4 linked regions of the Homo sapiens genome follow. The protein of the gene in region 1 purifies or fractionates together with the protein of each later gene. This does not show direct contact. Each region holds a gene or a part of one and is shown in the gene's direction. Other genes may lie near its edges.

Region 1 (7,030 bases):
TCAGAGGTTTAACATGGGTTGCTTAAGGTCATGCAGCTTAGCTAATGCCAAAGCTGGACTTGACCCCGGCCCTGTCTGATGCTGAAGCTTGTGACCTCTCCACGGGGTGGGCCAGGCAAGGGGGCAGTAGGTGCCCTCTCATAGTCATTGAATGATTAAGTGCCTGAACTGGAAAAACTAGGCCCAAATTAAGTTGAGAAGGCCCTGCCTCAGGCTTCTTCTCTGTAGGAGGAGGATAATAGCAGTGCCTGTTTAAAATGCGTGCAGTGAGCAACATCCGACGTGGGGGCAGGAGGGTCCTGGTGCATTGTGAGGAGCATGACCCAGAGGATGAGTTAGGGGCCTGAGTGGACCCCTGTCCCTCACCTAGTCTTTGACTCTCTGTGCAGAGCAAAGCCGTCGAGATGACCTGGAGAGCCTGGGCTACGTGCTCATGTACTTCAACCTGGGCTCCCTGCCCTGGCAGGGGCTCAAAGCAGCCACCAAGCGCCAGAAGTATGAACGGATCAGCGAGAAGAAGATGTCAACGCCCATCGAGGTCCTCTGCAAAGGCTATCCCTGTGAGTAGCCCAGTGGGAGGGGACATGCCTGGGGGCCCCTGAGGCACTGTCTAAGGGAAAGGTGAGGCCATACAAAGCCCACGCTGGGGCTAGGCGCGGTGGTTCACGCCTGCAGTCCTGGCACTTTGGGAGGCCAAGGCAGGTGGATCATGAGGTCAGGAGGTCGAGACCAGCCTGAGTAACATGGTGAAACCCTGTCTCTACTAAAAATACAAAAATTAGCCCCACCTGTAATCCCAGCTACTCAGGAGGCTGAGGCAGGAGAATTGCTTGAACCTGGGAAGCGGAGGTTGCAGTGAGCCGAGATTGCACCATTGCACTCCAGTCTGGGTGACAGAGCGAGACATCATCTCAAAAACAACAACAACAAAGCCCACACTGGGCTGCCCCACAGCCCTTGGCACCTGAGCAGTAATCCCTGGCTCTTTGCCACTCCTTGGCACAGCCAGAAGGCCCGGTTTCCCTGTCCTGGCTGTTACACCTGTTGCTTCCCGGCCTACATTCCTGCCTCATCTCCCAAGGGCCCTCTCCCCAGTGTTTTTGAGGAGGAATTGGAAGTTTTCCTCTTCTTGCTTAGGTTGTGTTAGAAGGTCCCGTCAGGCTCTTGCAGTCCTTTGAATTTATGGCAACGATTGATCTGTGGGCCCCAGGGTGCTTGGCGAGGGCAGCGGAAGAGCTGTGGGCATGGATGGCTCCTGGATCCGGCTACCTGGCAGAGGCTCCTGGCCACTGTTCGCAGGTCTTCCCTTGCTCTGAAAGCAGCAGAGGCTCTGCTCACGGGCAGGCTAGGCTTTCATCACAGTAGGATAGGGAAGGCCATGGCTCTGTTGCCTCCTTTTCTTGCCTCTCACAGATTGGAAGTATCTAGGGACAGTGGGTGGCTAGGACAGTGCTGGCTGCAGGGGGTCTGGGAGCGTGGGCCTCACAGTGGCCTTCTCTATCCTCTGCAACACCCTCCAGCCGAATTCTCAACATACCTCAACTTCTGCCGCTCCCTGCGGTTTGACGACAAGCCCGACTACTCTTACCTACGTCAGCTCTTCCGCAACCTCTTCCACCGGCAGGGCTTCTCCTATGACTACGTCTTTGACTGGAACATGCTGAAATTCGTGAGTCACCTGGAGGCCAAGGCGGGCTTGGGGGACTGGATGGGGAAGGCCCTGACTCAGAGGGCCAGAGTGAGCTGGTGGCGGGAGGGGCTCCCGACAGACGGGAGGTACGAGCTGGACAGTGTGGTTGACCTCACTGGGGTCCCAGAGCCCTCCAGCCTCATCCGTGCTGACAGCTTGTGCCACCATGGGCAGCAGGGCCCAGGCAGGGCGCTGTCTCCCGTCGGAACAAGGAGGATCTGGCTTCACCTGGGGTCCCTCCTGGGTGCCCGCAGCAGGGCATGGGTGGTGCTGGCGGCGCCCCCTGCTGCCCTGATTGCTGCCTACACCGTCCTGCTGCTCCTGTTCTGCACATCCCAGGTGGCTACCTGCACCATGGCCCCTCGGGCCAGCCTGGACCCAGTCATGGTGCTTGCTTTCTTCTTGGTCATGGGCCCCTGGGTCTGGCTAGGCAGTTGTTCTGTTTCCCTCTTTTAAGAGTCCCAGGGGTGGGGTTGGGTGGGGAGCAGCATTGGCCGGCCGTACCCAGAGCTCTGGAATCTGTGAAATTGTATGTCTTGTTTCACATCTCTTCTGGAAAAGGGGGCTTCCTCGAGCCAGGCTCAGCCCCGTGACAGCCCCATGACAGCGAAGGGACCTTTCTGTCCCCGCCCCTGTCCCTGTGCTGGGCCCACGTACTCACCCACGTACTGGTAAGGATCCTCTGAGGTCTGGCTTTTCCAAAATTTGCCACTTGACCAGTGAGCGCAAGAGGCTGAGCCTCAGCTGTGCTTTTTGTCCCTTTCAGGTGCCCGGCTCCCCTGGGCACCCAGAGCCCCCCAGATAGGCCGGTGGAGGAGGTGGAGGAGCTGTCCCCCCAAAACTACTGGCCTGTGGTCTGGACTCCAGGGCCCCATTTCTGATGTCGCCAGGTGTGCCTGAGCCCATCGGGGCCAGGCCTGAGGAAGTGTTTCTTGGGAGGATGGGATGACCCCCTGTTCCCAAGAGATGGCAGCACAGTGGAGGCCATGGTGGAAAAGGCCCTGCCATGGGGTCCTTGAGGGCCAGGACAGCCTGAGGGAGGGATGGTGGCCACTGCCCACAAGGGGCCTGGTGGGAACGGGTCCCAGGACAGACTCATAGCTAGACCCCGTTGGCGGCCTCTGTGTTGAACCAGAACTCATTAAACACCTCCTCTTGCTTCATCCTGGTGTGCCTCTTTCATGGCAGGGCCCTCAGCCACCCTGCTAGATGGTTAGGACCAAGGCTCTGTTCTCCTGGAAGCCAAGGTCGGCACATTGGTCTTGGGCTTCTCTTCTCTCTGGGTTTCTTGTTCACTAAGGAGTAACACAGAGGTCAGGCAGAGAATGGGGGTCTCGCAGGCTAGGGACCTCAGGGAGAGGCCTCTGTTGCCCTTTTCAGCAAGGCTGGAAATGGGATATGGGCAGGGGACGTCTTCTCTGACTTCACCCTAGACCTTCTGGCTCCAAATGGGGCCCATGGCCTTGAGCACCTGGGACCAGCTCTTTCCACCACAGGGCATTGGGCACTGGGCACTTTCTTATCGAGATAGTCACTCCCACGTCTGGTTCGTGATGGGCTTGGCCCTCCAGCTCAGCACAACTGCAAGAATGGATTTTGTATTCTCTAGACGGACACTGTCCAAGATGGTAGCCATTGGCCACATGCGACACATTTTTAATGAATTAAAATTAATCAAGACTGGAAATGTCGGCCAGGCCTGGTGGCTCATGCCTGTAATCCCAGCACTTTGGGAGGCCATAGAGGGCGGATGACTTGAGGTCAGGAGTTTAAGACCAGCCTGGCCAACATGGTGAAACCCATTTCTACTAAAAACACAAAAATTAGCTGGGCATGGTGGTGTGTTCCTGTAATCCCAGCTGCTTGGGAGGCTGAGGCAGGAGAATCGCTTGAACCCAGGAGGCAGAGATTGGAGTGAGCTGAGATCATGCCACTGCCCTCCAGTGGCCACCACATCCGGCAAGGCAGATGGGACCATTTCCTTCATCCAGAACGTTCTGTGGACATCACTGCTCTAGGTTCCTCCCTTATGGAGTCTCACAAGACTGTCTAGCCAGCAAGATCTCTTTTCCAACCAGGCCAGGAGCACCTCTCCACCCACTGCTGCTGGTCTGACCGCCTTCCTGGAAGTCCCTCTTGAGGCAGGCCCTGGAGTTAGAAGCTGGGCAGAGGCACCCACAGCCTTATCCTTTGCCAATCTCTGACTCAATGCCACGGCCACTGTAGTGAGCTGAACCACCTCCAGCAGTCCCCTGGCAGAAGCACCTGGAAAACATGCAATGGGAACCTTCACCCTGAGGCCAGGCCCTTCCCATGCTACCCAACAGTAGACAGGACACCCTGTGTTGTTGGCTGCACCGGGGTGCTGGGATCTGTGGATCCCTGGGGCCTGGAAGCCACTCTCAGCACATACAGCCACTGTGTTCCGAGGTCCAGTCAGCTGGCCGGGAAGGAATTCAACACAGCCAAGGACAGAGGTCCATATGATGACGGGTGGATGCTCGTGTGACTTTGCTGACCTTTTATGTTTTCTATGGGCAATAAAGGCCAAGAGAGCTCCCTGCTGTGTGTTTCTTGCGTCCTATGGGTTGGATGGGACCATGGAGAGTCGCCCACTTCTTGCCTCGGGGCTGGCAATGGCCTGAGCCTGCTGGGCTCACAAAGGGCAGGGGCTCCAGCCCTCTGCTTGGCTGCTGGCTGCAGGGCTCCACACCTTGGAGTGAGTCACTCAGCCTCTGTATCCCAAGCATGGAAATGAGATTGACCTGCCTCACAGGGTTGATGTGACTCTGCCCGCAGAAGGTTCGGCACGGAGGTGCCACAGCTCGTGTTCCTCCCCAGGCTTTGCTGTGGCTCTGGCTGAGTCACTGTTGGCCAGCCTGCAACCGAGTGGGAGCCCAGGGTGAGGACCGGAGGTCAGGAGTTAGAGCCCCGGTGGTCCCAGGCCTGCCTGAGAGGCTTCTGGGTGGGAGGATGGGAAGATGCATCTTCTAGAGTGTTCTAAGGCAAGACTCTGAACAGTGACCTCTTGGGGTGCAGAGAGCAGAGTGGGACTAGGTGGCAGAGGCCTGGGTTCAGACCCTAGCTCTGCCCTGAGCTGTGCAACCCCGGGCAGGTCACAAGGCCTCTCTGGGCCTTGGTGCCTCACTAAGATTCAGGGATCATTCTGGTCCTAGCCACTACTTCCTGGAGTTGCTTAAAGACAGGGCCCACCCCCACCTCTTGGCCAGTCTCCTGGGAGAGACATGGGTTGCAGGAACCACACCCTGTGCCCATGAGCAGGCCCCCAACTCAGCCCAGAGCTCTCTCCTCCACAGATGCGGCCCCCTTCCTGCCAGCCCCCTGCCCTTCCCTGTGGACGGCCCCAGGATGAACTAGGTAACGCAGTCGGGCGCTGCCCCCACATATGCTCTTCTCTGGCCCCTTCTCACTTCCTCCTGCACCAGGGGCGGCAGTGGCTGGACAGCAGGGCACCTGGGGGCTTAGGGTACCCCTTCTGCTCCAGCTTTGCCTGCTGGGCCTCTTCTTCCTCCGTGGGGAACGTGGCCCCATTTTCTTCTCCAGCTCCCCTTGAGCTTCTGTCCCAAGGCAGGCGGTGTCTGTGGGTTCCCTGGGCCTCCTGGCTGTGGCCTCCACTGCACCTGCCAGAAGCCATTGCCAGGTCCCGGCAGGGGGAAGGACAGCTCCCTGATGAGAAGAGCCCCTGGCTAGGTACCGGGAGAGCTGGTCTGAGTCCTAGCCCAGCCTTCCACTAGTTTTGTGACTCTGGGCCTGTTCTTTTCCCCCTCTGGACACCCCTAGCCAGTCTGCTAGAGGCCTCTAAACAGCTTTCCTGCTCGGTTTAGCAACCTTGAGTAGTTAAGGGCTCTTGGTACACAGAGGGGGGCCAGGGCAGGCCCAGCCCCAGGTCAGGAGGGCCAAGAGGTGCTCTTGATCATCCTGGGCGCATTAGTTGTCCTTTCTCTGGCTCCATCCCAGGAGAGCAGGGCAGACTGACCTCCCTCTGCCCCCAGACTCCTGCTTTCTCCTTCCTCTGGTGGTTGTGTGGCTTCGTGTCTCTGTGCTGTGTGATTGTGGGTCTTGGCTTCCCGCGCTTGTCAGGGAGGCTGGAGCAGAAGGTTTCTGAGATATCCACCTGGCCTCCCTCCCCTTCTGTGCCCTGCAGGGCTGCTGGGCCCAGAGCACCCTGGCCTCTGGGGCTGACTGGTGTCTTTTCTTGCATCCCTGCAGGGTGCAGCCCGGAATCCCGAGGATGTGGACCGGGAGCGGCGAGAACACGAACGCGAGGAGAGGATGGGGCAGCTACGGGGGTCCGCGACCCGAGCCCTGCCCCCTGGCCCACCCACGGGGGCCACTGCCAACCGGCTCCGCAGTGCCGCCGAGCCCGTGGCTTCCACGCCAGCCTCCCGCATCCAGCCGGCTGGTGAGCAGGGACTCAGGCAGTGGGCTGGGTTCAGGGTGGGTGGGGGGCTCTGTTTGTGCCTACTCTGAGGGTGGCTTCCCACTCTCCCTCCAGGCAATACTTCTCCCAGAGCGATCTCGCGGGTCGACCGGGAGAGGAAGGTGAGTATGAGGCTGCACAGGGGTGCGCCCGCCAACGTCTCCTCCTCAGACCTCACTGGGCGGCAAGAGGTCTCCCGGATCCCAGCCTCACAGGTGAGCTGCCCCCCTGCCAGTCCCTCTGGGCCTCAGAACTGAGTTAGAGACCCCCCAGTGGGAGGTCAGGCCGTGGCTCTGTTCTTCCCTTTCCATCGACGCTGCTTGCCTTGGAGTGAACCCCTTCTGTAGAGCCAGGACTTGGCCTCATTTAATCCTCTGAGGTCTGATGAGCCCTCTTGAGCAAAGTCATTCACCAAGGCTCAGGGCAGTAACATTCCCTGGCAAGTGGCACAGCTGGGCTCCAGTCCTCGCTGCCAGGGGCCCAGCCAGGGTGGGCAGCAGGGGCTCAGAGATGAGGTGTTGCTGCTCCCTGACATCAGGGAGCCCCCAGGAGCCCCTGTGAGCATTGGCAAGAGCATGGGGTGTAGGGGCAGTGAGGTCCCATCCTCTTTGGGGCTATGTTTGGATGGGGACACTTGGGAAGGGGGAATCTGTAGTTGCCCAGGGCAGGTGGCCTGGCAGAGGTGGGTGGGAGCCCTGCCCTCGTCCTCCTGCCTGTGGGCGAGGAGGGAGTCCTGCGAGAGAACCCTCATTGGCCATCTACTTAGGTAGCAGGTTTGCCTCCCTGGGCAACATTCTTAGCTACAGACAGGGACATCTTAGAGTCACTGGAATCACACAGGCCTTCCCTCAGCTTGAGGGGCTGCCTGGAGGTGGGGGTGGGGGTACACCTCCTCAGTG
Region 2 (7,224 bases), on another chromosome or scaffold:
AGGCTGAGGTGGGCAGATCACCTGAGGTTGGGAGTTCGAGACCAGCCTGACCAACATGGAGAAACCCCGTCTCTACTAAAAATACAAAATTTGCTGGCGCAGTAGCTCACACCTGTAATCCCAGCACTTTGGGAGGCCGAGGCGGGCAGATCACGAGGTCAGGAGTTCAAGACCAGCCTGGCCAACATAGTGAAACCCTGTCTGAACTAAAAATACAAAAATTAGCCAGGGATGGTGGCGTGCGCTTGTAGTCTCAGCTACTCTGGAGGTTGAGGCAGGAGAATCACTTGAACCTGGGAGGCGGAGGTTATGGTGAGCTGATATCGCGCCATGGCACTCCAGCCTGGGCAACAAGAGCGAAACTCCATAAAAAAAAAAAAAAAAATTAGCCGGGCATGGTGGCCCGAACTGTAATCCCAGCTGTTCGGGAGGCTGAGGCATGAGAATTGCTTGAACCTGGGAGGCGGAGGTTGTGGTAAGCCGAGATCGTGCCATTGTACTCCAGCCTGGGCAATAAGAGCGAAACTCTGTCTCAAAAAAGAAAAAGAAAAAGAAAAATTAGCCAGGCATGGTGGCGTGCACCTGTAATCCCAGCTGAGGATTAGGCATGAGAACTGCTTGATCCCAGGAGGTGGAGGTTGCAGTGAGTTGAGATCATTCCACTGCACTCCAGCCTGGGCAACAGAGTGAGACTCCATCTCAAACAAAACAAAACAAAACAAAACAAAAAACAAACAGGCGAGCCCAGCACAGCGGTGCAAGCCTGTGGTCCCAGGTACTCAGGAAGCTGAGGCATGAGGATCCCTTGAGCCCTCACGATAGCACCTGTGAATAGTTACTGCATTCTAGCCTGGGCAACATAGCAAGACCTATTTCTAAAATAAAAATGTAGACAAATTATTACATTCTAGGCAGTACGCCCAGTGGTGAATAAGATGGAGTCTGCGCCCTCAGGGACTATGTGTTGGTTTAAATTTTCACCTCAAGTTAACATTTGTGATTCAATATAAGTGATGAAGTTTGGGGGCCTTTGAGGGACCTGGGGATAAAGTGTTTTTTTGTCCAGAAATACTTGCCAGAGGCCCCTTAAATCACTTGGCCATAGCATCTGCTTTCTTGGCTTACTTCTAAGACTGGCTGTGTACACATAGAAGGAAAAAGAACATTAAAAAAAATGTTTTGCGATTCTAAGGCAGAGTAGTTTAATAGAGTATGGAGTTGGGAGGCTGAAGAACTAAACTCTACACAAGGTCCAGTATGAATTTTGTGACCATGAACAAGTAACTTCATATCCTTCTATGTCAGGGAAGACTGAGTTGTGTATGGAAAGAAAGGGGCTTTGGACAGAGTTTACTGTGTATTCATCCATTCATTTAAAAAACAAAAAACAAACATTACATTCTAGGCAGTATGCCAGGTTCTAGGGAGACAGTGATCTGCCCTCAGTGAGTACTACTTATTGATTTTGAGCAAATTTTCACCTCTTGAGTTTACTTTCCCATTTGTAAAAGGGATGAAAATAATACCTATTCCATATTTCCCAAGAATCACTGTTGTAGTGATCCATAGTTCTAGCAGGAGATTTGAATTCCTTGAGTGTGCTGACTGGAAAAAAAAAAGAAAATTGCTTGTTAGTTCAAGTTCTTCATTTGTAGGTGACAGAACAGGGCTCAGAAGATTAACTGACCATTCTAGTTCCTTTTTTACTTCTCACATGCAATGCAGCTTCCCTGAAGATTCTTTTGCAACTTTTGGGGCCTCTCCTTCCCTTCCTCCCTGGCCTGGGTGCTCCAGCCTACCCAGACGCAGTGTTCCAGAGCCCACTGTGAATGTGGTTTTGCTAAGGCTGAGTTCTTCCTTAGCAGTCCACGAATGCCATCTCTTGTCTTGAAATCCAGCCATCCAGTAACTCCTAACTGTCACCTCTTCCATAAGGTCATGAACCCTCAACTTGAAAAGGCCATTCTCTCTGAGAATCTCAGAATGCTTTGTACCTTGGCTTATTATGATGATCCTTAATCTGTGGCAGTTTCATCCTACCCTAGATTGTAAATTGTATCCTCTTGCTTATTTCTTTTCTTTTTTTTTTTTTCTTGAGACAGAGTCTCGCTCTGTCGCCCAGGCTGGAGTGCAGTGGCACGATCTCCACTCACTGCAAGCTCCGTCTCCCGGGTTCACGCCATTCTCCTGCCTCAGCCTCCCGTGTAGCTGGGACTACAGGCGCCTGCCACCATGCCCGGCTAATTTTTTGTATTTTTAGTAGAGACAGGTTTCTACCGTGTTAGCCAGGATGGTCTCGATCTCCTGACCTCATGATCCGCCCACCTCGGCCTCCCAAAGTGCTGGGATTACAGGCGTGAGCCACTGCGCCCGGCCTCCTCTTGCTTATTTCATGCCAGCGGTGCATTGAGTAATGTCTTGTAACAGAGCTGATTGAATTCCTGAATGAGTTGAATGGCAGCACGATAGCAATAACATCTGACCAGCCTACCATAGGTGGTTCTATTACTACCTATGTAGTCATAAAACAAGGCAATAAATATGAAGCAATTCTGTCAATGTTGTTGTTGCTGTTTTGTTTTGAGACAGGTTTCACTCTGCTGCCCAGGATGGAGTTCAGTGGCATGATCACAGCTCACTGCAGCCTTGACCTTTTTGGGCTTGGTGATCCTCCCACTTCAGCCTCCCTAGTAGCTGGGACTACAGGTGCAAGCCACCATGCCTCGCTGATTTTTGTATTTTTTGTAGAGTTGGGGTTTCACTATGTTGCTCAGGCTGGTCTTGAACTTCTGGGCTCAAGCAATCCTCCTGCCTTGGCCTCGCAAAGTGCTAGGATTATAGGCATATGCCACCATGCCCCTAAAGGTGACATCAAGAGAGGTGAGTAGATAGAAAGCAGTTTGGGAGTTGATTGACATTTGAAATAGCTGGGGAAATGATTATTACTTTTTTCCTTTTTTTGCCTGGAGACTCCCAGTATTGGAGGATATAATCATTGTTCTCAATTTTTTGAAGATCTGTCAAGTGGAAGACATTCTGTATTGCTCCAGGCAGCCTAACTACCAGCAATGGAAGGAAATAAAGGGAAACAGATTTCAGCTCAGCAGGAGGCAGAACTTTCTAACATTTAGAGCTGTCCAACAGTGGAGCAGGCTGCATTACTTGAGGGAGTGAGCTCCCTGAAATTTGAACTGTTGAACAGGAAGATGACCATCTGGCTGAATGTACAGGAGGGAATTCCTGCCTGGGCAACAGTTGCACTAGTGACCTTTAAGCAGGTATCTTCCAATTTTAAGGTTTCTAGACTGTTCAACTCAGCTAACTTGACCTCTGAATATATGAGTTATGGTGTTACAAAAATTATTAGACAGTTCATTTATTGACTTACCTAAAATAACTGCATGGTGAAGTTTATGATAAGCAAGATTTTAGAAACTGAGAAGTGGGAAGGCAGGTTTTACACTGAAAATCCAGATACCATCCAAACCAATTAATGGCACTTAGAACAAAAGGGAAGGGAGGGGCCGGCAGCGGTGGCTCACGCCTGTAATCCCAGCACTTTGGGAGGCCGAGGCGGGCGGATCACGAGGTCAGGAGATCGAGACCATCCTGGCTAACACGGTGAAACCTCGTCTCTACTAAAAATCAAAAAATTAGCCGGGCGTGGTGGCGGGCGCTTGTAGTTCCAGCTACTTGGGAGGCTGAGGCGGGAGAATGGCGTGAACCCGGGAGGCGGAGCTTGCAGTGAGCCGAGATTGAGCCACTGCACTCCAGCCTGGGCGACAGAGCCAGACTCCGTCTCGAAAAAAAAAAAAAAAGGGAAGGGAGGTTTGTAAGTAGTGTGTGCGTACGTGTGAGAGAGAAACAGAGAAGAGAGAGAGTCATTCATGCGAATAATGTGTCCTGGGCAACTGAGCGTTGTCACAGAAAGCATAAAACGCTCTACATTTTTGCTTTACACATACTTGCTCAGTCGGATTCTTCACGTCCAGCATTACTGCAGGCGGAAACCAGGGCCCAGGCCTGGTGAACAGCCTTCCGGAAGACGATTCCGGACCCGGACACCCACGACAGCCTCAGGGGGCAGCTGACCTAGGGCTGCCTAAGGCGGAAGTGGGAGCCCCTAGCCGCCCGGGCGGAACTACAGCTCCCAGAGGCCCCCGCGGCGCTGCGCACGCGCGCTGGCGTGGCGGCAGCGCCGCTGCAGGACGCAGGGAAGCCAACAGGCGAGTGGCGAAGGTGGCGGCAGCGGCGGCGGGGGCAGTCACCGGCTAGGGCGACGGCTCCGAGGCCGAGTGGCGGTCCGACAGAGTCCTCCGTGTCCTCCCCCGCATGACCCCCTTGGTGAGTACGCGTCCCGATTTAGTCCGCGGGCTGTGAGCGGCTCCCTGCCTCGCGGCCGGGTTGCTCCGGCCTAGGGCCGCAGCCTGTCTCTGACTGCCCGGCCGTCAGGTCCAACTGACCCCGGGGTCCTGGGCTCTTCCCGTCAGTGTCGGGCGAGGTGGGGGTCGGGGGACACTGGGTTAGACCCAGGGGAGAGATGTGGCGGCGCGCAGGAGCCAGGGCGGCCTGGGGCTGAGGAGAGGGAGAGACGCGTGGGGGATGGGATGGGAAGGGACAGGAGGACCGCGGGGCGGCCTCGGGTGGGGGCCAGAGACGAGAGGCCCGGCAGGTAGGGAACTGAGTATAGGAGGCGAGAACGAAATGGAATGTCTTCTGAGTGTCGCTGATAAAGATATCGTGCTGCAGGGAAGCTTGACAAGCTGGACACACGGGTCTGGGGGCAGCCCACCTAACACAGACACTCACTGTACTTGGCATCTTTCCACTTGCTGTCGGAGGTCTGAAAGTGAGGGAGCTGTTGGTTGTTTCCATCCCTTTTCTTTTAACTTCACCTTTTATTGACTGGCAAAATTGTAGTGAGTGCTGGCTAGGCAAACCACAGAAGTACACCCAGGGTTCTGTGTATAAATGTGCATAAAAACAGGGAGACATAGTGATAGGTTCAGATGAGAACTAGGTCAAAGGAGGAATCAGTGTTTTTATTTTTAAATTTATGACGAAAATCAGTTCTGAGCAGGACTTTGAACTAGAGAGGGGTTTTAAACTGGAGTTCATTGATGGATAGAATTAGAAGGGTCCTTTCACTAGAAGGAGGATAAAATGACATCATTATTTTTATTGACTGCTAACTGAAACTTATTATTTCCTTCAGTTACGAATGTGGACAACAAGCCAGAGTAGCATTAGCAGCGCCTATGACTTTGTGATCAATAAAAATTACGGATATTTTTGCATCATGTTTACAGTTGCAGATAGCTCAGAATATCATTTATGGTTAACACTTCTTTGAATTTCTGGTGTTACTAGACCCGCCGTTAGACATTGTTATTTAATGTGATAATAAGGCTGTACATATATTATGACCATATTAGTTTGTTGTTTTGCTAATATTTCCATATAATTGGTTTCCCTTGTAATCACATGTATTTAATTATGCACTTAAAAGAAATCTGAGAAAGGGACCATAGGCTTCACCAAACTGCCAATGAGGTCCGTGCACAAAAAGATTAAGAACTCCTGAAATAATTTGGGAGGCCGAGGCGGGCGGATCATTGAGGTCAAGAGATCGAGACCATCCTGGCCAACATGGTGAAACCCCATCTCTACTAAAAATACAAAAATTAGTTGGGTGTGGTGGCCCATGCCTGTAATCCCAGCTACTTGGGAGGCTGAGGCAAGAGAATCACTTGAGCCCGGGAGGTGGATATTGCAGTGAGCCAAGATCACGCCACTGCACTCCAGCCTGGCAACAGAGCGAGACTCCGTCTCAAAAAACAAAACAAAACAAAAAAACTCCTGAAATAGAAATAAGGTTTTTTGGATTTATAAGTCTACTTAGAAGAACTGTTGTTTTTTTTTTTTTGGTTGTAAGTTTATTCAATGCAAAAGAATCCTCTCCAATTTTACTGAGGTGGCTGACCACGTCCACGACCAAATCCGTCTCAACTGGAATTTGGCTGCTGACCCAGCCCCAGCCTCAGCTTTCTTGTCGGCACTAAGTGGCACAGCACTCCATCTGTAGGTATGTCTGTCAGCACTCCATCTGTAGGTATGTCTGTCAGCTTCCCCTCTTGTGAGTCTCGCAGGTCACTCACCCTCCAGACCTTTAGGCTGAGGCCTGCCGGTCTCTGGACAGCTATGGCGTAGGGTAGCAGGTACAGTCTCCGGGGGGCAGATGAAGGTAATCCCGGAGATACTGGATACCCTCATTGGTAAGGTACCAGTAGAAATGTCTCCAGGCAAACTGTTCCTTCATGTAGCCTTGAGACTTGAGAGACTGCATGGCCTTCATGACATGAAGGTTGGGCACGTTCTTGTCTGCCAGCTCTGGGTGCTTAGGCATGTGGACATCCTTCTTGGCCACCATGACTCCCTCCTTAAAAAGGAGTTCATAAATGGCAATCTGGTTCTTTAGAAGAACATTTGAATCATTGAAGGCAGACAGGATGACAGTGTAGACGAAAGAGAATTTCATAATCAGGGAGATAAAAAATTTGGATGGGATCAGGGTAGTCTTTTGTTTTGTTTTGTTTTGAGACGGAGTCTGGCTCTGTTGCCTAGGCTGGAGTGCAGTGGCATGATCTCCGCTCACTGCGACCTCAGCTTCCTGGGTTCAAGCGATTCTTGTGCCTCAGCTTCCTGAGTAGCTGGGACTACAGACACCAGCCACCACGCCTGGATAATTTTTATATTTTTAGTAGAGGCAAGGTTTCACCATGTTGGTCAGGCTGGTCTCAAAGTCCTGACCTCAGGTGATCTGCCTGCCTCGGACTCCCAAAGTGCTGGGATTACTGATGTGAGCCACCGCGTCCTGCCCAGAGTAGTCATTTTGAAAGAATAGACCATAGATATTTCATTCAGGGTAATGGGGAATGAACAAAATAATCGGAAGAAGAAAGAAAAGTGAATATGTTGGCCTTTAAATTTTTGTATTAAGGCACCTCCCCACTTCCAAGGGATTGCAGCTCTGTAAGCTCTAATGTAAGCCTGAGAAAAGAAATTTTACTGTTTGCTGGTTTTCTTTAAATCATGGAGGTGGATTTTTTTTTTTTTTTTCTGAGATGGAGTCTCAGGCTGTCGCCCAGGCTGGAGTGCAGTGGCGCGATCTCAGCTCACTGCAAGCTCTGCCTACCGGGTTCATGCCATTCTCCTGCCTCAGCC
Region 3 (7,000 bases), on another chromosome or scaffold:
CTTGCATCTGGGTAATTAATTCTGCCTCTCACAGTATTTCACTCTGTGTGTATACCTGTAAAATTTATTGGGATTTATTTCTAGCTTTTTGTCCAAACTTGTCATATTAATTTTGAATTCTTGATGTTTTACTGCATAAATTAGTTGACAGGCCATGTGTGCCAACTTGCATCCAGGAATGGGATGAGCAGCATCAGAACTTCACCACCAGAGTCACTGGGTAATTAAGTAGATAGCACTGGGCCTGATCCCATCGCTACCCTGCAGTTCAGAATGCCCCTCTTATAACAGGGGCAGCATGGTAGTACTTCATCAGCTGTACTCTAACCCAGCAACGATAGAGTGGAAAATCATACTTTCCTTAATGTTTTGTTAATTTTGGGAGCCCTCCACACCACTGACTGCTGCATTTTAGAATAATATATAGAAGACATGGAAATCATGAATATGAATTACTCTCTAGAATCGGTGCAGCAATAGATTTTGGTGTATTAGAAAGAATCCTTTACCACAGTAGCCTCAATGCCAAACGTTTTCAACTCAGCCCAGAGCTGAAGGCATTAATGAATTCTAATAGCAAGGCAGCATACCCTCCAGTGGGATTCTAATTGACAAAGAGATAGAAAACTGAAACAAGAAGGCCAGCGTGTCCTTTGGGGAGCTGGCACACAGCACCGGCCACAGTGCATCAGGCTCCAGGCCAAAGAAAAGTGAGCCCAGCAGTGAGTGCTATTGCCCTGTCTAAGCTAAAAGCAGGTGTTCTTGGCTGGGCTGTCAGGGGTCTGCAAACCCCCTGCCACTGAAAGCACAATTATAGATGTATGTATGTTTTCCAGCAAGCAGGATACTCAGCTTTTATCTGATACTCAAAAATATCCCTGAAATATAGAGGGCCAAGAAGCTCTGTTTGCTCGATGAACAATTATCCAAACTTCAAAATGGATAAAATAGGTTGTTGGAAATTAATACAACAACAATACTCAAAGAAAAGAGAATTAGCATCTATCCATCGCTGATTGTGTATCAGAGATTCTTGGAGACATTTAATCCTCACAATAACCTAATTTTAAGATAGAAAGAGAAAGGATTCAAACTCAGGTCTTCCTGAAAGCCCACATACTTCCTACTCCACACTGCCTCTCTAAAGAATGAAAGCGATTAACCATTGGATATTAATAAAAAATAAAGATAAGCAATCTAAAACAATAGGGAGATAGGATTTGATATTCAAAAATTTGATTTTTTAAAACTTAGGAGCTTATTGTTGAGCAAAGTTGAGAGATTTAAACCCAACTGACATTTATTCTATAGGATGACCCAGGGTACAGCTTCAAGAAGGGGTGGTTCCTTCAGAGCAAAAGCCTTTCAAGAAACTGAAGAAGTTGTAAATGGAACAGTTGTGAGGTCCAGCCTTACTGTTCAGTTTCTCATGAATATGATCATGTGTGTATGAACAAAAAGATTTAATTCCTCTTTTGTATCTCTGTACCAGTTGATGACAGTCATTTGTACATAATATATTACATTAGGTAAATTCTTCTGTATTTTACTTTGTCTCTGAAGTATTAGTTCTTTTCTCCCAAGCTTTTAAAACAGAGCTTAGGAAATATTCCTGCCCACATAACTAAATGCTTAACTAACTCTCAATGCTGCCTTCTCTAAAACTATAAATCCCAAAGTACATATTGGTCATTGTTTTATGGAAAATATTATTTGAGAATATTCGGTGAAAATTTAGCAAAGTAAATTCATGCAAATTTCTGGAGTTTTCTGTAGTGCTTTTGCCAGTATATCTTACGTAAAGCAATGTGATCATCTGTTTGGAGAACTCTGTTTGGGGAAGCTGAGCAGGATTAATTCCCGTCCCTGTGTTGCAGTGTAAATAGCTTTTTTCCTGTCTTTTGTCATTAATGATCATGCCGTAGATGTAGCCAGTGCATTGTAAGCCGATCTGTCAAGGCAAATAAACAATTCACCTTGTTAAAATTCCCTAAATCTTGCATTAATAAACCTAAGTAACCCCCTGAACACTCAAGAGATGTCTTCCTCCATACTGCGGTGATGGATGACACGTCTAAAGATCCTGGAAATTAAGTAGTTCAGGTCATTAAAAGTGTCCCACACTTGTTATTGATTTAATTTATTTTAAGAAGGTGGGGGTGGAGATAAGAATGTTATACCCTCCCCTCTTTTTTTAAATCTGAAAGCAACCACTTGTACAGATAATTAAAACTATTGCCTGGGGTAACAAGTCTGCATGTGTTACAAATTAGGCTTTATTATTCAAATAAGTATTGTATCATCCTCTTAAACAGATATCTAGAAAAAAAAACAATCATTGAAACATGTGTCATAGCCAAAATACCTCGGAGTTTTATATGTGTGATGACGCCTAGAACTTTTTGAGTTACAGGCACTGAAATAATGACCTCTGGGCACCTAAAAAATGTCCTTGAATAGGTAAAAACTGAGATGAAAGTGAAATGATTTAAGGAAATTTAATTGAAATAGTAATGAAATTATGCCTCTGGATAAAGGAGGTTTTTTTTTTCTTTTTATTTTCTGAACTTTTTATTTTTCTATTTTTATAACCAGGAGAAAGTAAACACATACACACACATGGATGGAGAGAGGGACAGAGGGATGGACGGATGAATGCATTGGTAGATGGGAAAACGCTTAGAGAGTGATACGCTATTTCGATTCTATCTCACTATATTCTAAGGCAAGTTTAAGTTGTTGTTTAGTGTGTGTGTTTACTTGTTCATTGCTAGCTTTCTTCAGCCCATGCTCCACTGGACCTGTAAGATTTATCATCATGTCCCAGTGCCTAACATAATAGATGCCCAGGAAATTATTATTTAGTGAATAAAGTATAACACCCCAATTTTTTCTTCTATCTTTTATTCCTTAAGCTTCCATGGGAATGGTGAGCTGTGTAAAGAACCGTAGCAGCCCCCAGTGGAAGTGGCTCTTTAGATGACCCCTCTCCAGGGACTGAACACCAGGAGGGTTCTGCTCTAGTGTGGGACAGAGGGCAGCCTAGGAGGACTGGCAACCTGTATAGTTACCCACTTCATTTGTATGACCTGAACTGGGTAACAGTATTACAAAACCTGATGAGGAATTGGGGCCACTCAGTATGTGAACCATGGCTAAGAACAAGATGTGATATAGAACTATGTATCTACAAGGTACATAATTTCACCTCACTTTTGTTACTTGTTATGTATCTTATGCACCACCCTTACACAGTATTCCTGATCAGTTGTGTGAGTGATATTTCACCACTGATTCTCATAGTTCTTTAAACAACATGTACTTACTGGACAAAATTTACCCATGATAAGTTATGAAAAATGACCCTTAAGAATAGTTGTATTGAAGTCAGAGATTATGATAAAACCTTTGATGCTTTTCTCCTGTGGTCTTTTAGAAGAGGGGGAGGGGGAGGGGGAGGTGGCAAACTTATATTCAGTTCACACACTCTGGTAGACTTTAAAAATACATAGATAAGAAGATACATACTTCTTTGTCAGATTTCTCCTTGACATTGCATAATCTGGATCTCTGATTACTGACATGGTTATGCCATCATGCCAGCTATGTAGCAGAGCTCACTAAATGGAAGAACTCTATAGATTTTTTTTTCAGCATGTACACTGATTTACACTTAGCAGTAAAGTTGTTACTGACCCTTTAAGTGGAGCTGTCCAAATGGCAATAAATGTCAGTTGATTCTAATGCCAAAACAGGTGATAGTTGAGGGTTCTTGACTAAATCTTCCAGTTAAAAAATAATTTATCATATTTCCTAAATAGTAGTGGTCTCCTGTGGGGAGATACACACACACACACACACACACATGTATACATAATGTATATCAGACCACTTTATCACTCAGTAAAGAAAATTTGATATACATATCTTAACAGTATTATTGATGTTGCCAGGTTTTGAAATATTCACTCTGGATTAGAATCTCCATGAAGGCAAGAACCATTTCTACCTGGCTCCCCACTGTCTTGTCCCCTAGTCAGCATCTAGTGTATAGTAGGTGCTCTATAAATGCCAGTTGAATGAAAGAACAGATAAACTGCAGGATTTGCCGGCAATCCCTAGCATGTGTGTCAGCCCGAATTCCTGGTGGGCAAAACAGAGACCACTCCTCATCTTGACTGTGAGGAATGTTGCTGGTAAGAACTTTGATGGACGGTTATGACTTTTTGAAATAGTTCATTTGATTGATCACCTAGCAAACTTCACTTCAGTTTCGAATTCTGTTTTCTGCTTTCACAGGCTGTCATTTTAGAAAATGAAGAACTTCCCAAACTGTTTCTTGATTTCCTAAATGTGCGACACTTGCCCTCTCTACCAAAGGCAGAAAGTTGTGGGTAAGAATCATGTTTGCATATTGGATGTGTATTTTAAATTACTCTTCAATGACCAATTGATCTAACAAATAGCCCAGAGTGATGCCCGAGTAGCCTGCCGGCCACGCCCACTCTTTTGGCTTGCTGCAGCACTCGCTCGCCCCCTGCTTTTGGTTAAAAGAATTCCTCTGAGTCCTTATGCCCATCTTGCGGCCAAATGGCCATGGTTCGGTAACCCATGTTTAGACTCAAGGAATCAATCTTTTCAATTACACTGTTACATAGAATGATGTTACTTGATGGGAATTATGAATCTAATTAACTTGTTATGGGCTCATTTATTAGTGGAAACTCGAACAAAATTCATATCCTGGTGGTACACATTCATATAATTTTAAAGTTATGAATGATCTTAGAGATGATTTGATGCAACTCCTCTCATTTTGTAGTTGAGCAAACAGAGACACAGGAATTTAATGACTTTCCCAAGATCTCTTGCCTTGTAGCTTGCAGAACCGAGGCCTTCCAAGGCAAGCCCTCTTCCTCTACTGTCCAGCTGCCTCTCTCAGGAACTTCCAGTGGCAGGACTACAAATCCTAATCCCTATCTATTGGTCTAAACCCATTGGTCCTAACCCAAGGACCCAGAGGTTTGATATCATCAGCAATTAGGAAAAGCTCTCCCGAAGAATTAACTCTGAAATAAGCCACTGGCCCAGCAACAGCACATGACATGGGCTGAGCTAGCCTCAGAAGGCCTTCAGGAACATCCATGGCATACTGTATCCATTTACAGGGGAAAAAATCATCACAAACTCTCTGAAAATCCATGCAGGAGAGAGGTTTACCCATTTTCTTGCTGCCTGAAGGAACCACACTTAACTACAAGAAAATCAAGCAGGCCACACCCAAAGTCATGTTAAACCCCAGCCATCTGCTGGATGATGGGGCTGCAAACACCTGTCACAGCTCCTCATGAGCACTGTTTACTCAGAGCCACTTTCCACTTATTGCATAACAAAAATTATACACTTGGCAAATACTGTGTTGTCAGTGTGTTCTGTTCCAACTTGTATGTATTTACGGGCAGGTTAGGCTTCATATATGTTTATGTATTTTTTAGAATAGACATTAGCAATGGCAGTGAGCGAAATGTTTTCTCCATTATACAAGCCCAAAAGTAGTAATAAAACCTGAGGATTTTTAAGTAATCTTAAGAGAAATCAAAGAATATTCCAGTCTTCAGATTCCTTAGAATGGGGCATAGCCATGCTGTGGCTCAGTGGAAACTCACAGCTCTTTTAAAAAATAACTACCAATTCAGTCATCTAATAATATTGGGTATTTTTTCCTTTGTTGGCATAAACATTGACTCAACATATGTGGTTTTTTTGTTTTTTTCCTTTTTCAAAACTTTTAGATCTTTTGATGAAACAGAGTCTGAAGAGTCAAGGTAAGGACTAATCCTCATCAGCCAGGAATAGGATTATGGTTTTGCTAAATGTTTAATCACCTACGATGTGTTTCAAGTTATGTTTTTCTTAAGAACCTTTGTTTGGAAATTGGTTTTAAGATTATAAATATTTGATAGGGAATTACAGGAGTAACCAGTTAGAATTAAGAGTGGAGGAATAAGAGCCCTACATTGTTTCATGCAAGTAATCAGAATGTTTTATCAACAATCGTATTACAAGATTTTTAGGAAATCACGTTTCAGCAATGATTTATTGTATAGATTGTATATTTGCTTCAAATTCCACAAAGAAATGTTTAGAAGATGAGAGCAGTGCCCATTTGTTCACTCTTACTCTGCGTGCTATTATTCACCCACACTGTTAGAACATAAACCTTGAGACGTCCCCGCACAGCAGTTTGATCCCCTCAAAGCTAGTTTGTAGTGTTTTCTGTTTACCATCGTCCCCTGATGCTGACATGCCTGTTCTTGACCTTTCCAGCAAACTGTCCCACCAGCCTGTGCTGCTGTTCCTCAGGGATCCATATGTCTTGCCTGCAGCCAGCGGTAATCAAACCTGTCATCTGCTAACAGCTCTTTACTGATCTGACCCTGCACCACATAAACCACGTTTTTAATACAGGTCTAACAGAGTGACATTGGTCCCGGGCTTAATAATCTGCCAATAAACCAGTGCTCTTGGTATAAGCGACACTTAGAATTTTAATTGGGGCTGGCCTTTCAGGAGGAAATGTAATTTTTCTTTCTCTCTTACCAGACTATTTTGAATTAGAGTAATAAGGAAGAATGGTATTTATGGTCCTTAATTTTTCTGATCATGTCATTTTGGCCTCTGCTTGTTTTTGTCCAGATGCCAAGGTTCAAATTCAAGGCTCTAGTCCTTTTTAAAAATGCCTCTTCCCGGCCAGGCATTTTTAAAATCCCAGCACTTTGGGAGGCCAAGGCGGGTGGATCATGAGGTCAGGAGATGGAAACCATCCTGGCTAACACGGTGAAACCCCGTCTCTACTAAAAATACAAAAAATTAGCCGGGCGTGGTGGCCGGCGCCTATAATCCCAGCTACTCGGGAAGCTGAGGCAGGAGAATGGCGTGAACCCGGGAGGCGGAGCTTGCAGTGAGCCGAGATCGCGCCACTGCACTCCAGCCTGGGCGA
Region 4 (7,340 bases), on another chromosome or scaffold:
CCCTACAGGGCACGTGACCAGCATCGAGCCAGCACCTCAGGGACACCCCAGGGTGGCCAGGCCAGAGCAGCCACAGGCAGCCTCGAGACCGGTGCCGGCCACTGCTCCGGGGTCTGAGCTGGTGCTGGTCCTTGCTGGGCACATGGAAGGCTGTGGAGCAGGGGACCCCATGCCGGCCCTGGGCCCCGAACTGCTGAGGCTCCATGAGGTCCAGCTGTGCCTGGCCCAGGAGCAGCTGCTGCTGGAGGACCGGTGGCGGCAGGTCCAGCTGCAGATGCAGCTGTGGCGGGAGGAGCAGCTATGGCTGCAGCAGCTACAGGAGGAGCAGCTGTGGCTGCAGCAGCTACAGGAGGAGCAGGCCTGGGTACACGTGGAGGGGCTGCAGCTGGCCGTGGCCCTGGAGCAGCTCCGGAGTGAGGGCTTCGAAGCACTGCAGACCCAAGGCCAGGTAAGGCCTGGATGGGGTGGCGGGAGGGGTCCCGGACTGTTGTGTTGGTGCGGTGGCCACTGCAGCAACCTAGGGATGCCTGTGGAGGCCCAGGAAGCCAGGCTGGATGCAGGGTATCTGTGGGCCCATCTTCACATCTGCCAAGTGAAGCCGGTGCCCGCCACACAGGGCACTGCAAGACCAAGGGACAGCAAGCCTGCCCAGGCTGGCCCAATGCTTGGTGGAAATGGGCACTGAGGGCAGATACTTGTTCAGGGACAGAGGTGTCCCTGCAGCAGACCCAGGCATGCTGGGCCAGAGCCGTCCAGGGCAGTGTATGGGCTGCGGTGCAGGGCGAAGGCCTGGGTGTGCAGTCAGTAGGTAGCAGAACTGAAGAGCACAGCCCCCACCCCTGCAACCCAGTTTCCTGGCTGCCTTGCTGGTCCACCTGCCCTGCCCCCCGTTTATTGGAGTGCAGTGTACTCAGGGCTAGAGATTGCGGAAGCAGCATGCGGCACCTGTGCCCATTATCCTCATTCCAGGAGGGCGGCTGGCCTCAGACGCAGCTGGGGCTATTTTGGGGAACTAGGATCTAACCCCAGCCTGGCGTGGAGGAGCGGTCACCATCATCCCACCTGCTCCTGTGAATCTGGGAGCTCTCTGGCAACCAGGGGTGTTAGGCCAGGCCCACTCTAAGCAGAGGGGCAGTCTGGGGAGCAGGATGGGGTGCTCTCTTAGCAAGCACAGACCCCAGTGCAGGCCTGGGTGCTGAAGGACCCCAGATTTGCAACCTGGAATGTGTTCACAGCCAGCATAGAGAATAAATGGGAGCTGGAGCAAGGGAGTGACAACAGTGAAGGCGGGGCTGGGGTGGGGGAGGGTACTGGGGGAAGTCTCCTTCCTGACCCACAGGAAAACCCAGCCCAGGTGAGCTGTCACCATCCAACCTGGAAGTGACTATGGAGAAGGTGACTGGGAGCAAAGCCGCAGGCAGAGGGCAGCACAGGATGGCCCAGATGGAGCAGAGAGTCAGAGAACACATGCTTAGACTGAGAATCCCCAACTTGGACTCAAACCCTCCTGTTTCAAAACCCATTTTTGGCCATCTAGGCGCCTCCCACTGGCTCCTGCCCCCTTCCCACCTCCATGTGTTCCAAAGCTGGGCTTCTCTGAGTGCTACCCCTAGGCCCCCACCCCAACCCCAGGGGTATAAGATTCAGGCTTGGCCGGGCATGTGGCTCAAGCCTGTAATCCCAGCACTTTGAGAGGCCGAGGCGGGCGGATCACCTGAGGTCAGGAATTCAAGACCAGCCTGGTCAATGTGGCGAAACCCCGTCTCTACTAAAACAAAAATACAAAAATCAGCAGGGCGTGGTGGCGCACGTCCATAATCCCAGCTACTCGGGAGGCTGAAGCACAAGACTCACTTGGACCCAGGAGGCGGAGGTTGCAGTGAGGAGGGATTGCGCCATTGCACTCGACTGGGTGACAAGAGCGAGACTCCGTCTCAAAAAAAAAAAAAAAAATAGATTCAGGCTCAAGGTCTGAGATGAATGAATGGGCTCTGAACCCTCAGTCAATCACACCTAATCCCAACTCAGAGGTCCCCTAAAAGCCACTCTTGGAAGAAGGGCTCTCCTCAGAGGGGGTGTCTCTCGGTGGCTACATAGAAGGTCTCACAGGTCAGTGTCTGGGTGACAGTGCTCTGGAGGTCAGAGGGTGCACTTACCAGCAGCAGCTCTTGTCTTGGGCCCAGGGTGGAGCGTCTGCCACTTCCCAGCTGCAGCTTTGGGTCTCCCCTTCTTACTGTCCATTCTCCTGGGGGGTGGGTAGGGAAGGACCAGGGAGAGGGTGCTCAGAGTGGCAGAGGGCAGGGGCAGTGGCAGTGGGGAACAGGGCACACCATGGGCGCCTGAGTGGATGACAGCAGGAACATGGGCTCCCCTGAGGCTTCCCAGCTGGTGTCCTGTCTGCCTGCCCGCCCCGGGTGTGTGCCCAGAAGCTTGAGCCGGGATGCCTGGCAAGAGCACTTGGCCACCTCCCGTCCCCCTGGCCGTGGCTTGCCTGCCCCTCCGCCCCAGGCTCAGCCCATCCTGCCGGGCGCAGGATCTGGAGTCTAGCACTCTTCTCCCTGCCCCAAGCTGCTGGGTTGCCAGTGGGCCGGTCTTTGTTCTCACCGTAATCATGAGCATGGCCCTCTCTGCTGAAGCCTCCATGCCTCTCCACTGCCCTGGGAAGCCAGCCCACCCCTGAGCCTGCTCCCCAGCCCACCCAAGGCACTCACCCCTCCACACCCTCAGACCTTATGTGGTCCCGGCTCTGGCAGATGGTGGTGTCAGGCCCTGGAGCAACACCCCTCTCCCTAGTCCACACAGCTGACCCCCAAGTTCATTTCCCTGGGAGGCTCCTCCTGCCTGCCCCAGCCTGTCCGGGTCCTCCCCGGTGCCCCATGCCCCTCACCCGCTGCAGCACAGTTGCCTGGGCACTGGTCTGACCCCCCACCCATGTTTCCAGCATGCTGGTACCAGTGGGGTGGCACTGAGTGTTTGGGGAAAGAACAAATGAAACTGGGACTGACCCTGAAAACAGAAAATAGGATCACATGGCAAGAGGAACAAAGAGAAAGGCGACTGATGACCATCAGAAAGGGTTGAGGCAGGGCCAGTCCTTGGGGTGGGAGTGGCAGGGGCGAGGGGTGGTGGTTTGGACAGATGATCCAGTGTAGGGCAGGGCCTAAGAGGGGGAGGGGCCCTAAGTGAGGGCCTGAGGGGGACCTGGGGGACTGGAGCACCCAGGGGCAGCTCGGGGTGGTGTGTGGGGGTTGCTGTGTACATGGGGGGGCGTCTGGTATGAGGCTTGGTGTGCACACTGGGTCCCTTGTCCGTTGGGGCTTGGTTTTTGCAGAGTCCCTGTGTGTACACAGGGTTCCGTATGTGAGGGAGGTCCCCTGTGCTCTCAGAGTCAGTGTGAATATGGCATCCCCTGTTTGTGTGTGGGGTTGGTGTCTGAGAAATCTCATATGCAGGTGGGGTTCCCTAGGTGTGCGGATGTCAGCGTGTTCGTGGGTGACTGGCATGGGCAGGACTCGGTGTGCTTGTGGCTTCTGTCTTCCTGAGGAGTCTCCTGTGCTTGGGGGTTGGTGTACATGAGGCACAGGTCATTCGGGGTCCGCATGTGCATGGGGGGGTCACTGCGGCAGAGTCCCCTACAAGTGTGGGCATCGGTGTGAGGGGGTGAGGGAGAAAGATGGGGGACCCCAGGTACTTGTGGGCATCAGTGTGTGTGGTGGGGGTTGGGGTCTGGGGGTCCTCTGTGTGGGCGGGGTCCTCGTCTACGTGTGGGGCGCTGGTGCGGTGGGAGACCGGTGTGTGGTGAGGGGATCCCCTGTGCTCTCGGGGCTCCCAGACCCGGCCCCGCCCGGGGCTCGACGCCGCCCCACCGTCCTCACCTGTCGCACCTGCCTCCCCCAACTCGGCGAGGAGGCCAGAGCTCCGCCCCTGGCGTCGGGCTCGCTCGTTTCCTAGCGACTGAGCCGGAACTTCCGAGTCACCCCGACTTCCGGGGCGAGGGTCAGGGGTCAGGCTGGGAACTTTGAGCCTTGGGTCAACAGTTGGGCTCCCGGGGGTCGGGGTCTTTGAAGTGCGGGCCTCACGGTCTCCGGCGGCGCTGGGCCGGGGTCTCCGGGCGCGCGGCCGCAGGGCACGGGCGGGTCGGGGCGCGGGCCGGGGGCGCGGGCTGGGGCTGGCGGCGGGCGCGGGGCGCAGGAATGCGGGCGCGCCGCGGGTGGGGCTGCCCCGCCCCCAGGTGCTGCCCGGGCAGGCAGGAGGCAGGAGCGACGGGCGGGGCGGGGGCGGGCGCGTGAATCAGGCCGGGCGGGCCGCGGCAGGGAGTGGCTGCCGGACCGACCGGACCGCGAGGCCGCTGGGCGGCGGTCGGCTCCTGCTGCCCCTGTGCCGAGACCCCGCGCACCTGGCCAGGTAGGGCCCCCCTCCCCCGGCCCGAGCGGGGCGGGGCGAGGCGGGGGGCGGGCGCCCCTTGGCGCGGTCCCACTTGGGCTACCCTTGCGCCCACACCTGGGCCGGGGCCGCGCGACCCAGAGAGGGGCGGTGGGAGTGGAGCGCGGCCGCGTGCGCGGGGCCGGGGTGGCGGGGCTGCTCGGACAGGGGGCGCCGCTGTGCGGATATGGACGCGAGCGCCCCCGCACGACGCCGGCCCGAAAAGAGCCGAGGGGGAAGGGGCCCGGGATCCGGGTCGAGCCTGCCCGGCCGTCCCGACTCGCTCCCGCCCTCGCGGCCTAGCTGGAGTCTGGGTGCTGGGCACGGCCTGGACCCTTCCCTGGGGACATCCGCCCGGGCCGCCGTGGACTGGGGTGGCCAGGGTGCGGCCTGGATCCCCGCGTGGCGAGCAGGGCGAGTGATGGGAGTGCTGCCCCTCGCGCCCACGTTCCTGGGCTGGGGTGGGCGGATAGGGCACCCAGCGGCCGCAGCCGCGAGCTCGTAGGGTGCACTGACCCCGTTGGGGGCTGGGGTGCCCACTCCGCAAGTTATCACTGAGCGACTTCCGGTCTGTGAGCCCCGTCCTCCGCACCCCACCTTTCCGCCGCCTAGAGCCTCCGCGCCCTCCTGCGCCCATCGGAACTTGGCACAGGTTCACCCCACTTTGTGTAGGAACTCCAGATCCTTCCATGGGGTCCTCCTTCCAGATACTCAGGAACCCCACTTCCTGCCAGGGTGGAGAGGATGGGGTCCTTGAAGGCCAGCTGAGGGCCCTGACTTCGAGTCAGAGGTCAGGGGTCAGCAAGCAGAAGAGTGGATTCGTGCTGAGTCATTGCCCATGGGTGGGTTCCGCGCCCTCCCTCCCTTGGGCAGACGTTTGGTAGGCAAATGTGTGGGCATGCAGGCCACTGGGGTGCTCCATCTTGGGCTCGGGAGTGGCTGCAGCCCCGTCCATAGCCCAGGAGACACGTACCCATGAAAGGAGACGACGTGAGGAATGAAGCAGTTGGAGGTCTGGGCATCACCCTGTGAGGACGAGGCATGTCTGCTGGGAGGGCTCCTGGCCACGGGGGCTTCCACTGTCTGGATGGTCCCTGCCCCCATTACACACAGCCTGGAGCCTGGACACTGAAATCCAAAGGGACAGTGGGGGTCCTTTCTAGAGTGTCCCCCCAGTGTCGGGAAGTACCCTCAAACAACATCAGCAGGGTTGTTCCCCCTGCCCTGTATGGTCAGACACCGCCCCTACAGACAGGCTGGCAATGGTGAGTGGGCTCCTCGGCCCAGCCAGACAGGCCTACACCTCACCCCCATGTGGTTGGCCTCGATCTGCCCCTGGCACAACCAGAGCGGTGTGCCCTAACCAGCCCCATATGTCAACCATGAGGACGGTGCCCCAACAAAGAAATGTTGGGACAGCTTCTCCCAAGCCGGTTGGCATCTAGGGCTGTTGAGTGGCACCAGGTATTTCCCATGTCTCAACTCCATGTCACCCCCAGGGGCACCAGGCAGGACGGCTGCCTCCTGACCCCAACATTCTCAGCCAAGTGGCTCCGGCTAGCACCCATGTAGTCCAGCTGGCCGGCATCCATCCTGTCAGCGCCCAGGGGCACGCTCCTCTGGGCACCTTCCTAGCCAGGGCCAACATTCAGGAACCTGTGTGCTAGGCGGGGACAGGTGTCCTGCCTCCCTCCCCAACCCGAGGAGCAGTGGGATGGACTGAGCAGTCCCTAGGGCTCTCCTTCCAGGGAGAGGTACCCAGGTAGCTCAGTGACCCTGTGTGCGTGGGCCCTGGGCGCTCCCCATCTGACACCTTTCTGGAGAGGCCAGGCCCCCGCAGGGACCCTTTGGAGAACAGAGTGGGCTGTGGGGCAGCCAAGCATGGATGGTGGTGGCGAGCCCAGGACCTGGAAAGGTCCCTGCTGCCCTGGATGGGGGCTGGTGGGGACAGGACTCTGAGCAAGTGGAGAGCCAGATTTGGGCGATGTGGAGTGCAGGCCCTGCAGGGCCCTGTGGGCACCAAGGGGCTGTGGCCCAGGGAGGTTTTATCTGAGAGGGACAGTGACAAGAAAGAGGTCAAAGGTAGGCCAAGGGAAGGAGGGGGTGCTGGGAGACAGGGACGGAGTCTAGGGATCAGTGTTCCAGGACTGGGCGGTCATAGAATGGGCTGTGGGAGCCCAATTGTGAAACCCTGAGGATGGGGAGGAGGTGTGGCCCGGGACTATGTGTGGGGCTTAAGGTTGCCATTCCAGGAGGAGGGTAGTCACAGCCCTGTTTGCTGCGCTCACCTTGGGCTAGGCGTGGTGTCATGTGGACCCTCAGCTGTGTTGTGCAGTAGAGGTAGGCCAGAGAGGTGCAGTGACCTACCCACAGTCTCCCAGGCAGTCAGAGACGGACACATGGGCAGCATGGGCGGCACCAGCTTGTCCAGTAGGCACAGTGCCAGGGGTCCGTGAATGTCTTAAAATAAGAAAAAAGTGAATATTATAATGATGAATGCAGCCTGGATTGTTTGTCTTTAAGCCAACAGTCATGAAATATTTGGGGGGGGGGGTTCGTTTTATTTTTATTTTTTGTAGTGATGTGGTCTCACTCTGTCACCCAGGCAGGAGTGCAGTGTCACAATCATAATTCACAGCAGCCTCCAACTCCTGGGCTCAAACAATCCTTCTGTCTCAGCTTCCCAAGTGCCTGGGACTATGTGTGCACGCCACCATGCCTGCCTAATGTTTAAAATTTTTTGTAGAGATGGGGTCTTGCTGTGTTGCCCAGGCTGGTTTCAAACTCCTGGCTTCAAGCAGTCCTCCTGCCTCAGCCTCCCAGAGAAAGGAGAGACAGGGCTGGGATACCTGTGCCCCAGCCCTCTGCCAGTGTCCCCTCAGCTAGGGGCATCCTAGGGTCTGGGTTGCTCTCTGTGA

What was found.
Region 2: the proteins of CSNK1E (region 1) and GAPVD1 purify together in Homo sapiens (affinity purification with mass spectrometry; 6 studies listed by BioGRID and IntAct, with this or other methods). This does not show direct contact.
Region 3: the proteins of CSNK1E (region 1) and SNX24 purify together in Homo sapiens (affinity purification with mass spectrometry; 5 studies listed by BioGRID and IntAct, with this or other methods). This does not show direct contact.
Region 4: the proteins of CSNK1E (region 1) and FAM83H purify together in Homo sapiens (affinity purification with mass spectrometry; 6 studies listed by BioGRID and IntAct, with this or other methods). This does not show direct contact.

Annotation. Positions count from the first base shown.
Region 1 is NC_000022.11:38,293,425-38,300,454, reverse strand, and holds part of CSNK1E (casein kinase I), read left to right. Parts: intron 1-389; coding exon 390-560; intron 561-1,520; coding exon 1,521-1,669; intron 1,670-5,920; coding exon 5,921-6,113; intron 6,114-6,206; coding exon 6,207-6,346; intron 6,347-7,030. Other genes in the region: TPTEP2-CSNK1E (casein kinase I), read left to right, coding at 390-560, 1,521-1,669, 5,921-6,113, 6,207-6,346.
Region 2 is NC_000009.12:125,257,616-125,264,839, forward strand, and holds the start of GAPVD1 (GTPase-activating protein and VPS9 domain-containing protein 1), read left to right. Parts: upstream 1-4,210; 5' UTR 4,211-4,344; exon of another isoform or gene 4,345-4,345; intron 4,346-5,920; exon of another isoform or gene 5,921-6,486; intron 6,487-7,224. UniProt on the Homo sapiens protein: Acts both as a GTPase-activating protein (GAP) and a guanine nucleotide exchange factor (GEF), and participates in various processes such as endocytosis, insulin receptor internalization or LC2A4/GLUT4 trafficking.
Region 3 is NC_000005.10:122,995,613-123,002,612, forward strand, and holds part of SNX24 (sorting nexin-24), read left to right. Parts: intron 1-2,595; exon of another isoform or gene 2,596-2,725; intron 2,726-4,299; coding exon 4,300-4,394; intron 4,395-5,792; coding exon 5,793-5,825; intron 5,826-6,327; coding exon 6,328-6,392; intron 6,393-7,000. UniProt on the Homo sapiens protein: May be involved in several stages of intracellular trafficking.
Region 4 is NC_000008.11:143,730,755-143,738,094, reverse strand, and holds the start of FAM83H (protein FAM83H), read left to right. Parts: upstream 1-4,315; 5' UTR 4,316-4,404; intron 4,405-4,941; exon of another isoform or gene 4,942-5,012; intron 5,013-7,340. Other genes in the region: IQANK1 (IQ motif and ankyrin repeat domain-containing protein 1), read right to left, coding at 2,157-2,241. UniProt on the Homo sapiens protein: May play a major role in the structural organization and calcification of developing enamel. May play a role in keratin cytoskeleton disassembly by recruiting CSNK1A1 to keratin filaments. Thereby, it may regulate epithelial cell migration.